Homo sapiens: one gene and its partners. The protein of the gene in region 3 purifies or fractionates together with the protein of the main gene of each other region. This does not show direct contact. Each region holds a gene or a part of one and is shown on either strand. Other genes may lie near its edges.

Region 1 (3,651 bases), on a different chromosome or scaffold from region 3:
CTGCACTGGGCTTCTATGGGGTGTCCCCAGTGAGTGTGTGTGCATGTGCATGGGTGTGTGCACGCACAGAGTCAATGACTCCTTGGAATTCTAGACCCGTGCTGCACTGTATGGTAATCTACTAGCTGCATGTGGCTATTTAAATTACAATGAAATAAAACAGAATATTTAGCTCTTCAGTTGTACTAGCTACGTTTTTTCCTCAGCACTTTCTGTGTAGAGAGTAACTGAGGCCCAGAGAAGCGAAGTAAGTCGCCTAAGGTCCCACAGCAAGTCTGTGGCAACCAGAGGGCAGAATCCAAGTTTTCTGAGAAATTCACCAGGCTCCTTTCATCTGGGATTTAAAAAATCCTCAAGAGTTCGGTTTAGTAACAAGAAAACTGAAAACAGATCTCAGAGCTGGAAGAGTTAGGGAGGAGGAAGGGGAGAACCGGATTCAGAGAAGGCCAGGACTGAACCCGAGGGTGGGGGCTCAAATATCCGTCCCTCCCTCCACCTGCTTCAGGGAAGGGAGGAGTGGGACTCACACGCTGTCTCCCTGGATGAACAACTCTGGCCGCTCTTTTAGCAAATTCTTCTTGATCCAGATGAGCAGGTTCCGGATGTCCCCTGGAAAGGAATGCACAGAACAAACTCTTGTCAAACCCAAATAGCACCTGCCCACCCCCAGAGCCTTGCCTGGCCCACAAGGAAATACACACGGTGTTTAGAGGGCTTCTTTTAGACCAGGCTGTGATAGCCCATGAACTTGTAGATTCCAAAGGTGAGGAAACAGGTTAGGACAGGCCAGTGACTTGCCAGGTGGATCTTCAGAGAAAGCTGCACCTGGCACTGCTGAAGTCCTGGAGAAGAGGCAATGGGATTTACCTATAGTGGGGGGATTCAAGGCAGACGGCGGGAGGACTGTCGCATCTAAAGGGTTAGGAGACAGGCCCCTACCCACAAGTCCTGGAAGCCAGTCTCCAACTGCCATGGCTGGACTTCTGAGAGGACCTTGAAGAGCCCCCTCCACCTTTATCTCTCCAGCCAGTCGCAGATGGGGAGGATTCGGCTTTGCTCTTGGAGGGGTCTGCATATATTTCCCTTTGTGAGGGGAAAAAAACAATTGCTGAGCTGATAACATCAGTTAATTTCCTCTGGCAGAGGGAGAGAAGGATCATTCACCAGCTAGGGATGCTGACAAATCCCTGCTCCACTCCCCTGCCACCACCCTGTGCTTCCAGAGCCCTCCGCGCCAGCGGTGGCCAGAGGTTCGGGTGACAGGGCCTCTCCAGCTCAGCTAACACTGAGATCTGCCTCCTTGTGGTTCTGGGGGAGCCACCAGCCTCCTTGTATGTCATGTGGAGGCTCAGAGCCACCTGTCTTCAGGGTCACCTGTCCTTTCCTAGGGGCAGCAGTATCGGGCCACAGCACACAGAAATGTGGCTCTATAAACACCTCGAAGCCTATGGTCCTCAACTGTCCGCCCCCGAAACAGGGCCATTCTCCTGAGGCTGAGGAGTTCCTTCTCATTCTCTTAGACGACTTGAGGATAAAGGTCCCAGGGAGACAACTCGCCTCTGGGAAGCCAGCAGACAGGTTGGGGTTAAGCACCCCATCCCGAGTCAGCGTCCAGAGGGGTCTGCTGTCCTGGACTAATGCCTGAGACAAAGCTCAGGGCTAAGCTGGAGAAGTCCCAGGTGAGGCCTTGATTTTCCTGCCTGGAGTCCAGAGTGTACGCAAGGGAAAGGTGGCTAGGACTCAGGGAGACTTTGCTCTGCCCTGTCTGGGCCCACAGTGTGGCACGCACACACGGCCCCAGCCTTGGGCAGGGAGTTAAGGCACGCTGGCTGGCACGCGTGCCCCCTCGCTCTGACAGGCCTGCAGCCTGGATGGTCCACTTTGCTTGGTGCCAACTTGCCTGGATCGTACGCCAGCAAAGCACAGGGCCACGGGCAAAGTGTCCATGGACTGAGACTGCCGCCTTTCCATTTTAATGTCTCCTTTTAAACAAAGCAGATCAGAGTCTTCACGGTCCCTGGAGCAGGCATGGGATGGGGAAAATGCTGCCTCCAACTAGCTGCAGCTCACTTGGACTCCTGGCTGGGTTCCTCCCTGAGGTCTGGGTTTCAGAGGTTTCCCCTTGGCTCTGAATCCCCTTGGCCTCCATCTTGGTACTGTCTGGTGGGCCGCCAACCCATACATCTTGTGGCTGCTCGATAGAGCCACCGGGGTCTGACACATCCATCAGCCAGCCCTAGCGGGCGGGGGTGTGCCTGTGTGTGTGGAGGCGGCGAGAAGGTCTGGGCAGTGCCTGGCCTGCATGGAACCAGGACTCAATTAGGGGACAGCCCTGACTCCCTCCAAAGGGAAGGTGCTTCTGCTCCACTCTGGATAGGCCTGGGGGTGGGGGAAGGGCTAGTGGTCATGGTGGAGTCATCCAAACGATGGCACCAGCATGGAGTCCCAGAGGGACAAGCTGGGGGATGAGTCTGCTGCCCAGTGCGGGCTCATTTATCATGATGCTCCTATTTGCTGAGGTCACTCCCTCCCTCTTCTGCCCGCCCCCCACCCAGGCCTGCCCACATTTTTGATAGCCTGTTACCATGGTGAGGCTACCGCATCGCCACTCGTATTGTTCCCCCATGCCTGGATTTGGGGGTGGGGAGAGGGGGAACTCATGGCTCCCTTCGCAGGATGCAAGGGCCACTCGGCCTGGCCTGAAACACACCCCCAGGGACATCTTGCTAGGCTTGCTGAGGCACAGACAATATGCAAATAGCCTCCAAGCCAGATGGTCGGCTTCCAAAGGCGCCCAGGGGAGGAGGAAGGGTTAAGCAGAGTCAGGGGCTGGTGGCTTGGGGATGGATGGCTCTGTGATAGATAGGGGCTGGAGACTCTCACTTTCACCTTCCCACTCTGTGTCCTCTTGTCTTCCCTCTCCTACTAGGGGCGGTCTCCCTCCTGGGATCCCGTGTGATCATGCAGGAGAAAAATATTTATTGAGCAGCTACTATGTGCAAGATGCTAGGGAGATGGTAGTGGGCAAGAGGGAAACAGAGCTACCTACCCTCAGGGAGCTAGAGGTCAGCAGGGGAGACATACCATACTTAATTAGTTGTGACAAATGCTATCTCCTTCATCTGGGATCAGGAGAGGCCTGACTGAGGGTGTTAAACAGTGAAGCTCGGGTCTGAAGGATGAGTGGGGTGGGGAGCATTCTGGACAGAAGGATAACACATGGGAAGGCTGGGGCAGGATGGAATGGGCAGGTTCAAGGCAGCAGAACAGAGAAGGTAAGAAGCTCAGCAGGAGATGGGGCCAGGCCTTGAGAACGGGCCTGCTCCCGTAGGGGCCTCTCCCTCCCAGTGAACCTCAGCGGTATCTCCCAGGTATGTGCTTCCTGGGAACCAGGCCCCACTGCCCAGGCCTGTGCTTCCATGTGTCTCTGACTCAACACTTGAATCACGATCCAGCTCAAATGTATGGCACTACCATTACCATTACTTGAGTGGACAACTGGGGAGGTAGGGAGGGAAGGAGGGAGGAAGAAAGAGACTAAGAGTATGGACCCTGGAGTCAGACAGGCCTGGTTTTGAGCTGGACTCCATCACTTACTAGTTCTATTACCTTAGGTAATAGGAAGCCTCGGCTTCCTTTTTTTGTAAAATG
Region 2 (3,651 bases), about 23 Mb from region 3:
GGCAGAGCAAGTGTCTTCACATGGCCAGAGCAGGAGGAAGAGAGAGATGGGGGAGATGCCACACGTTTTTAAACAACCAGGTCTTGTGAGAAGTGTATCTCGAGAACAGCACCAAAGGGAGAACTCCACCCCCCTGATCCAATCACCTTCCACCAGGCCCCACCTCCAGCATTGGGGATTACCATTCAACATGAGATTTGGGTGGGGACACAGACCCAAACCATAGCATGGTGGTGCGGTGTGTTTTGTTGCTGTTCTTTTTTGGCCAAATAATTGCTCAAGGACTTTTTAAAAAAGAAATGTATATGCTACATAATTACTTCACAAATGGTTTGAAGATCTAAGTAAGTCAGACGTTTTGGCAAGTGTTAAAATTTAGTGTTTCAAGGTGAGAGAATGCTCTGTATAAGAAATGTTTAGTTAATTGCAGATCATACAAAAGTTCCTAATAATTTTTTTAAAGGACTTTGTAAGTTTTTGGAGGGAGCAAAATGGATTTCACAACAACCAACACCTCTCACCTCCCCATCTACAAGCTTCCTCCGACAGTGGTTACCAATAATGTCTGTTTTATAGTTATTTAAAGCTTCATAAGTACTTGAAGCCATGTATTCTGCTTAAAAGAAAAGTAGTTGATGGAGGCAACAGTGTTTCCAGGGATGTCATTAATTATCTCTTTTTCACCGACATTATTTCAGTTAAAGTTTTAAAAGACAGTTACTACCTCTAGGAAATAAATGTTCTTTTTGAATGATATCCTACCATCCCCCACCTCCTTTAAGGCAGTAATGCAGTTAAATGCTTCCGAAAACAAGGCCATGTGACGCTTAGTAATTGGTGATAGGACAGGATGCTTATGGTGGAATGAAGGAGCACTATTTAGGCAATATCATTGGAGTTGCTTTGAAATACTCAATTAACTAGTAATTCTGTTGCTAATGTTCTGTACAGATACATAAGCATCTCCATTTTTACTTACCTGTAAGAAGCAGGAAACAAATCATTGTTGAGTACCAAATCCATAGGTTAATGTGGTCTTAATAGTTAACTATTATATGCAGTATAAATGAAAGAGTCTTTCTCTTTCTGTAAGTTGCCCTCTTCTTCTCTTCTACGTCTCTTATCTCTCCCCCTGTATTTAGCTGACATATTTATTTTGACATATTTAGTTGATCTGCCTGCCTCAGCCTCCCAAAGTGCTGGGATTATAGGCGTGAGCCACCATGCCCAGCTGGGAGTTGGTTTATTAAGCCTAACATTATGATATTAAAAATTTGTCTTTGAAACGTCTAATCTGAGCTAGGGTTTTATGGCTGATTTTTGACATAGTGATACTGAGGAGAAACTCTTCCATTCAATCTGTAAAATTCTGAGATCATGTGAAATATTTGTGGCATAACTTTAATATTAGTTTTGGGCCACAGTGATAAAGATGCTTTAACTGTAAAATTAAAATGATCTGTTTCAGGTTTTTTATTGTTTTGCAGATCAGCAATTCATGCTAAAAAAGTGTCCTGCCCTACTTCAAGAAATGGTTAATGTAATCTGCCAACTAATAGTAATGGCCCGGAACCGTGAAGGTGAGGAGGAAATATAGTTAATTATGTTATACTTTTTCTTGCAAGCATATGCAGATTGTACTTCATATTTTAGGATTTATGGGTACTCAGACTTCTGTCGGCCAGTTCAGTGAGCTTCTTCAATTTTACTCATGTCTTTTCATATTTCTTTCCTATATTTTCTATTATTTAAAGTCTATATCACAGCTCACTGGGTTTTTTTTGTTCTTTTTTTTTTTTGAGATGGAGTCTTGCTTTGTCGCCCAGGCTGGAGTGCAGTGACAAAATCTTGGCTCTCTGCAACCTCTGCCTCCTGGGTTCAAGCGATTCTCCTGCCTCAGCCTCCTGAGCAGCTGGGATTACAGGCGCGTACCACCACACCTGGCTAATTTTTGTATTTTTGGTAGAGACAGGGTTTTACCATGTTGGCCAGGATGGTCTCCATCTCCTGACCTCGTGATCCACCTGCCTCAGCCTCCCAAAGCCCTGGTCACTGTGTTTTTGATTTTAATTCTTGTTTTTTTTTTTTTTGGAGACAGAGTCTCACTCTGTCGCCTAGGCTGGAGTGCAGTGGCGCGATCTTGGCTCACTGCAACCTCCGCCTCCCAGGGTCAAGTGATTCTCCTGCCTCAGCCTCCTGAGTAGCTGGCATTACAGGCGCATGCCACCACGCCCGGCTAATTTTTGTATTTTTAGTAGAGACGGGGTTTCATCAGGTTGGTCAGGCTGGTCTCAAACTCCTGACCTTGTGATCCACCTGCCTCAGCCTCCCAAAGTGCTGTGATTACAGGCATGATAATTTAATTATTTTATTGTTCAATTGTTTGCAAAGATTTAAAATTTCTCTTTCTTTGAATAATTTTTGAGTTAGGTCATTTTTTCTAACAGTGAATTTGAAATCTTTAACTGATATAAAAGTGATTCATATGTCATGTAATTTTTATTAATTAATTATAGACAGCATCTACCAGGGCTGGAGTCCAGTAGGGTAATCATAGCTCACTGCAGCCTCAAACTCCTGGGCTCAAGCAGTCCTTCTACCTTAGCTCTCCGAGTAGCTGGAACTACAGGTGCATACCACAGCACGGAGCTAACTTTACATTTTGTGTAGAGGTGGGATCTCACTTTGTCGCCCAGACTGGTCTGGTTTCCAACTCCTGGCTTTAAGCAATCCTCCCACTTCAGCTTCCCAAAGCCCTGGGATTACAGTCATGAGCCACATGCCTACAGGCACCTAGCCATTTTTTTTTTTTTGGTATGGAAGGAAAAGAATGAGGGAATTTCTGGTCAGTAATGGAAAGGAATGCCCTTAAAAAAGGATAGTGGTTATGGTTTGTTGTTACGGGTGATGTTGGTTCTTGTCATGGTGTCATATGTTGGTGATACTGATAATGTCTGATAATTTACTATTATTTGAGGTGAGGCAAATAATTTTTCTTTTAAATCAATGGTTGTTGCTGGAAAATGTTCATTAGATCGAGTTTGTATATTTTTAGTGTCTTCTCTGGTAACTTTTAAAGGAAAATCTTACTATGATCCTCAAATTTGAGGTGTTATGGATTTAGTGTGAATTTTGTTTTTGTGATGAATTGTATACTCCTGAACATGTAAAAAGTCCAGCCCTGTTTCTTTTTTTCCTGTTCTTTCTAAGAAAGGGAGTTTCGTGCTCCAACTTTGGCATCCCTAGAAAACTGCATGAAGCTTTCTCAGATGGCCGTTCAGGGACTTCAGCAATTTAAGTCTCCCCTTCTGCAGCTCCCTCATATTGAAGAGGACAATCTTAGACGGGTTTCTAATCATAAGAAGGTAATTCTTTGCTACTTTAAAGTCAGTTTTCAGCAGTTTGTCCTGTCACTTAAAGGTAACATGAATAAAAGTTTTCTGGAAATGGTTACTATGCATTTTTTAGATTTAGAATGTCTTAAATACTCTAAAACTTTCTCTCAGGTGGTTCTGTTAACATTTTCTTGACTAGGTAGCTGTGTTTTATAGTATTTTACTACTGTAAGTAGTTTTATTATTTTGGGGGTTGTTGCATTTAAAAAGTCAACAGTTAGTTCCTTATATTATGTTACCAAAAATAAATGTACTG
Region 3 (3,651 bases):
ATATATATAACTAAATTTACTACTCATTGCTTCTAAATACGCGTTTACTTAATAAAGTACTTACTTCCACAGTCATCCTGAATATCTACAGTAGCAAATGGCATGTCTACCAGAGAATCCATAGTATTGGCTTCAAATTCCTCTGACATTTTCTTTTTTCTTGATACATTTTCACACTCATTGGAATTAATTCCTCCTTTAACATATCACAAACAGAAAAAAAAGGATTATTTAACTTGTCATTATTTAAACATATCCTAAATGAAAATAACTCAGCTCACTGATTTCAATATAAATTAACATCTGTTAAGAAATGTACTACTTGTGTTCAAATATATCATAAAGCTATTTATATAAACATTTATACCACACTCTATATTTTTGTACACTTATAAAGCTTTAATCATTTTCTAAAACACAGTATTCAATGTATGATTAGATGAAAACTGAGTCAATCAATAATCCTCAAGATCTTTTACAGCTATATTTTAATTCTAAAACTACGTTTTTTCACGTACCTTTTAAAACAACCAGCAAGGTTTGTCAGTCATTCTCATTCTTATTTTTAGCAATATCACTTATGTGTTCTTATTTGTACAAGTTCTGGCCTATAATTTTTTCTTCAATAAAGACTTTTAAGTTGTTTCTCTCCATCATTATATTTAACACTGGATATTTAGTTAAAAATACATGGTTCTAAATATGCTTTTCTGAAAATTCAATTATTAAAAAGCAAATGATCTTACAGTTTCCCTAACTCCTCTCCCATGGTGATATACTAACTTTAAAGCCATATTTCCTATTTGGTCTTTTTTTGTTTTCTTGCTATGGGTAGAACAATCATATACCTTGGGTGGAGGTAAGAGAAAGAAGGTGTATGTTTAAATTGATAAAGTTAATTGCTAAATTTATCAGATGGTGGTCTCCCCAGTGCCATTATAACCCATGCCTTTATTGACAGACACAAATGCTGTCCGAACTAATAAGATTGAACAGAATCCTGGAATACTAATATAATTTTTACTCTACATATTTACTAAAGACTAATTTACCACTCAAGATGTTTAAGAAGTCCTTTAATTCATTCTCTTGTAATACTCTATTTTCAGATACAATACCTGTAAAACATAGTCCATTAAGAATATGGCTACACTGGGAAGTGAGGAGCCCCTCTGCCCCGCCACGACCCCGTCTGGGAGGTGTGCCCAGCGGCTCATTGGGGATGGGCCATGATGACAATGGCGGTTTTGTGGAATAGAAAGGCGGGAAGGGTGGGGAAAAAATTGAGAAATCGGATGGTTGCCGGGTCTGTGTGGATAGAAGTAGACATGGGAGACTTTTCATTTTGTTCTGTACTAAGAAAAATTCTTCTGCCTTGGGATCCTGTTGATCTGTGACCTTATCCCCAACCCTGTGCTCTCTGAAACATGTGCTGTGTCCACTCAGGGTTAAATGGATTAAGGGCGGTGCAAGATGTGCTTTGTTAAACAGATGCTTGAAGGCAGCATGCTCGTTAAGAGTCATCACCACTCCCTAATCTTAAGTACCCAGGGACACAAACACTTCGGAAGGCCGCAGGGTCCTCTGCCTAGGAAAACCAGAGACCTTTGTTCACTTGTTTATCTGCTGACCTTCCCTCCACTATTGTCCTATGACCCTGCCAAATCCCCCTCTGCGAGAAACACCCAAGAATGATCAATAAAAAAATAAAAAATAAAAAATAAAAAATAAAAAAAAAAAAAGAATATGGCTACAACATGGCTATGATGATAGGCCACAGTTAACATACAAGCCAAAAAACACACATTTTTACTGCAATTTGATTAATCTCTACTATTGTTCACACACACACACCCCTGTTGTATTAGTCCATTCGCATTGCTATAAAGGAATACCTGAGGCTGGGTAATTTCCAAACAAAAGAGGTTTATTTGGCTCCCAGTTCTGCAGGCTGCACACAAAGCACAGTGCCAGCATCTGCTTTGGTGAGAGCCTCAAGAAGCTTAAAATCATGGTGCAAGGCAAAGGGAAGCCAACATGTCACACGTCAAGAAAAACAGCAAGACAGAGAGGCAGAGATGCCAGCCTCTTTTAAGCAACCAGATCTCACATGAACTCATTACTGCAGGGAGGGCACGAAGGCATTCATGAGAGATCTGCCCCCATGACCCAAACACCTCCCACCAAGCCCTATCTCCAACATTGGGGATTACATCTCAACACGGGATTTGGAGGAGACAAACATAAAAACTATTATCATTCTGCCCCTGGCCACCTAAATCTCACTGCAAAATATAATCATCTCTTCCCAATAGTCCCCCAAGGTCAACTCGTTCCAGCATTAACTCAAAAGTCCAAAGTCTCATTTGAGACTCAAGGTAAGTTTCTTCCACCTATGAGCCTGTAAAATCAAAAAGAAGTTATTCAGCTCCAAGATACAAAGGTGGTACAGGTATTGTGTAAACACTCCCATTCCAAAAGAGAGAAATCCAAAAGAAAGGGGCAACAGGCTCCACATAAGTCCAAAACCTAGCAGGGGAGACAATAAACCTTAAAGCTCCAAAGCTCTCCTTCAACTCCATGTCCCACATCCAGGGCACACTGGAGCAAGACATGGGCTCCCAAAGCCTTAGGCAGTTCTGTCCCTATGGATTTGCAAGGTGAAGCCCCTGTGGCTGCTCTCACAGGATGGAATTGAATGTCTGCAGCTTTTCCAAGCTCAGGGTGTAAGCTGCCAGTGGCTGTATCATTCTTGGGTCTGGAAGGTGGCAGCCCCCTTCCCACAGCTCCACTAGGCAGTGCCCTGGTGGAGACTCTGGGTGGGGGCTCCAATCCCACATTTCCCCCCAGCATTGCCCTAGGAGAGTTTCTCTGTGAGGGCTCCACTGCTGCAGCAGGCTTCTGCCTGAGCACCCAGGCTTTCTGGTACATCATCTGAAATCTAGGTGGAAGCTGCCATGCCTCCTTCACTCTTGCATTTATTCTGTGCACCTGCAGGCTTAACATCACATGGAAGCCCCCAAGGCTTACAGTGGCTTGTGCTCTCCAAAGTGACCAGAGCTGTCGCTGGGGCCTTTTGAGCCACAGCTGGAGGTGGAGAAACTGAGATGTGGGGAGCAGTGTCCCCAGGCTGCACATGGCAGCATGCCCCTGGGCTTGTCCCCTAAAACCATTCTAGGCCTCCAGGTCTGTGATCGGAGAAGCTGCCCTGGAGATTTCTGAAATCCCTTCAAGGCCTTTTTCCCATTGTCTTGGCTATTAGGAATTGCCTCCATTTTAGTCATGCTAATCTCTCTAGCAAGTGGTTCCTTCACAGCCCACTTCAATTCCTCTCCTGAAAATGCTTTTTGCTTCTTTACCACAAGCCTAAGCTGCAAATTTTCCAAATTTTTGTGCTCTGCTTCCCTTTTAATTATAAGGAAAGCAACTTTAAGTCATTCCTTTGCTTCCATATCTGATTGTAGGTCATCAGAAGCTGCCATGCCACTTCTTGAATGCTTTGCTGCTCAAAAATTTCTTCCCACTGCACTCCACCCTGGGTGACAGAGTGAGACCCTGTTGCAAAAAAAAAAAAAAAAAAAGAAAGAAAGAAAGAAATTTCTTCTATCAGATACTCTAAGTCATCACTTCTAAGTTCAAACTTCCACAGAT

The links.
Region 1: the proteins of AKAP7 (region 3) and URM1 purify together in Homo sapiens (affinity purification with mass spectrometry; one large-scale study listed by BioGRID and IntAct). This does not show direct contact.
Region 2: the proteins of AKAP7 (region 3) and SEC63 purify together in Homo sapiens (affinity purification with mass spectrometry; one large-scale study listed by BioGRID and IntAct). This does not show direct contact.

The regions. Positions count from the first base shown.
Region 1 is NC_000009.12:128,384,774-128,388,424, reverse strand, and holds part of URM1 (ubiquitin-related modifier 1), read right to left. Parts: intron 610-3,651; coding exon 528-609; coding exon of another isoform or gene 524-527; exon of another isoform or gene 1-523. UniProt on the Homo sapiens protein: Acts as a sulfur carrier required for 2-thiolation of mcm(5)S(2)U at tRNA wobble positions of cytosolic tRNA(Lys), tRNA(Glu) and tRNA(Gln). Serves as sulfur donor in tRNA 2-thiolation reaction by being thiocarboxylated (-COSH) at its C-terminus by MOCS3.
Region 2 is NC_000006.12:107,902,558-107,906,208, reverse strand, and holds part of SEC63 (translocation protein SEC63 homolog), read left to right. Parts: intron 1-1,487; coding exon 1,488-1,580; intron 1,581-3,210; coding exon 3,211-3,365; intron 3,366-3,651. UniProt on the Homo sapiens protein: Mediates cotranslational and post-translational transport of certain precursor polypeptides across endoplasmic reticulum (ER). Proposed to play an auxiliary role in recognition of precursors with short and apolar signal peptides.
Region 3 is NC_000006.12:131,141,830-131,145,480, reverse strand, and holds part of AKAP7 (A-kinase anchoring protein 7), read right to left. Parts: intron 197-3,651; coding exon 65-196; intron 1-64. UniProt on the Homo sapiens protein: Probably targets cAMP-dependent protein kinase (PKA) to the cellular membrane or cytoskeletal structures.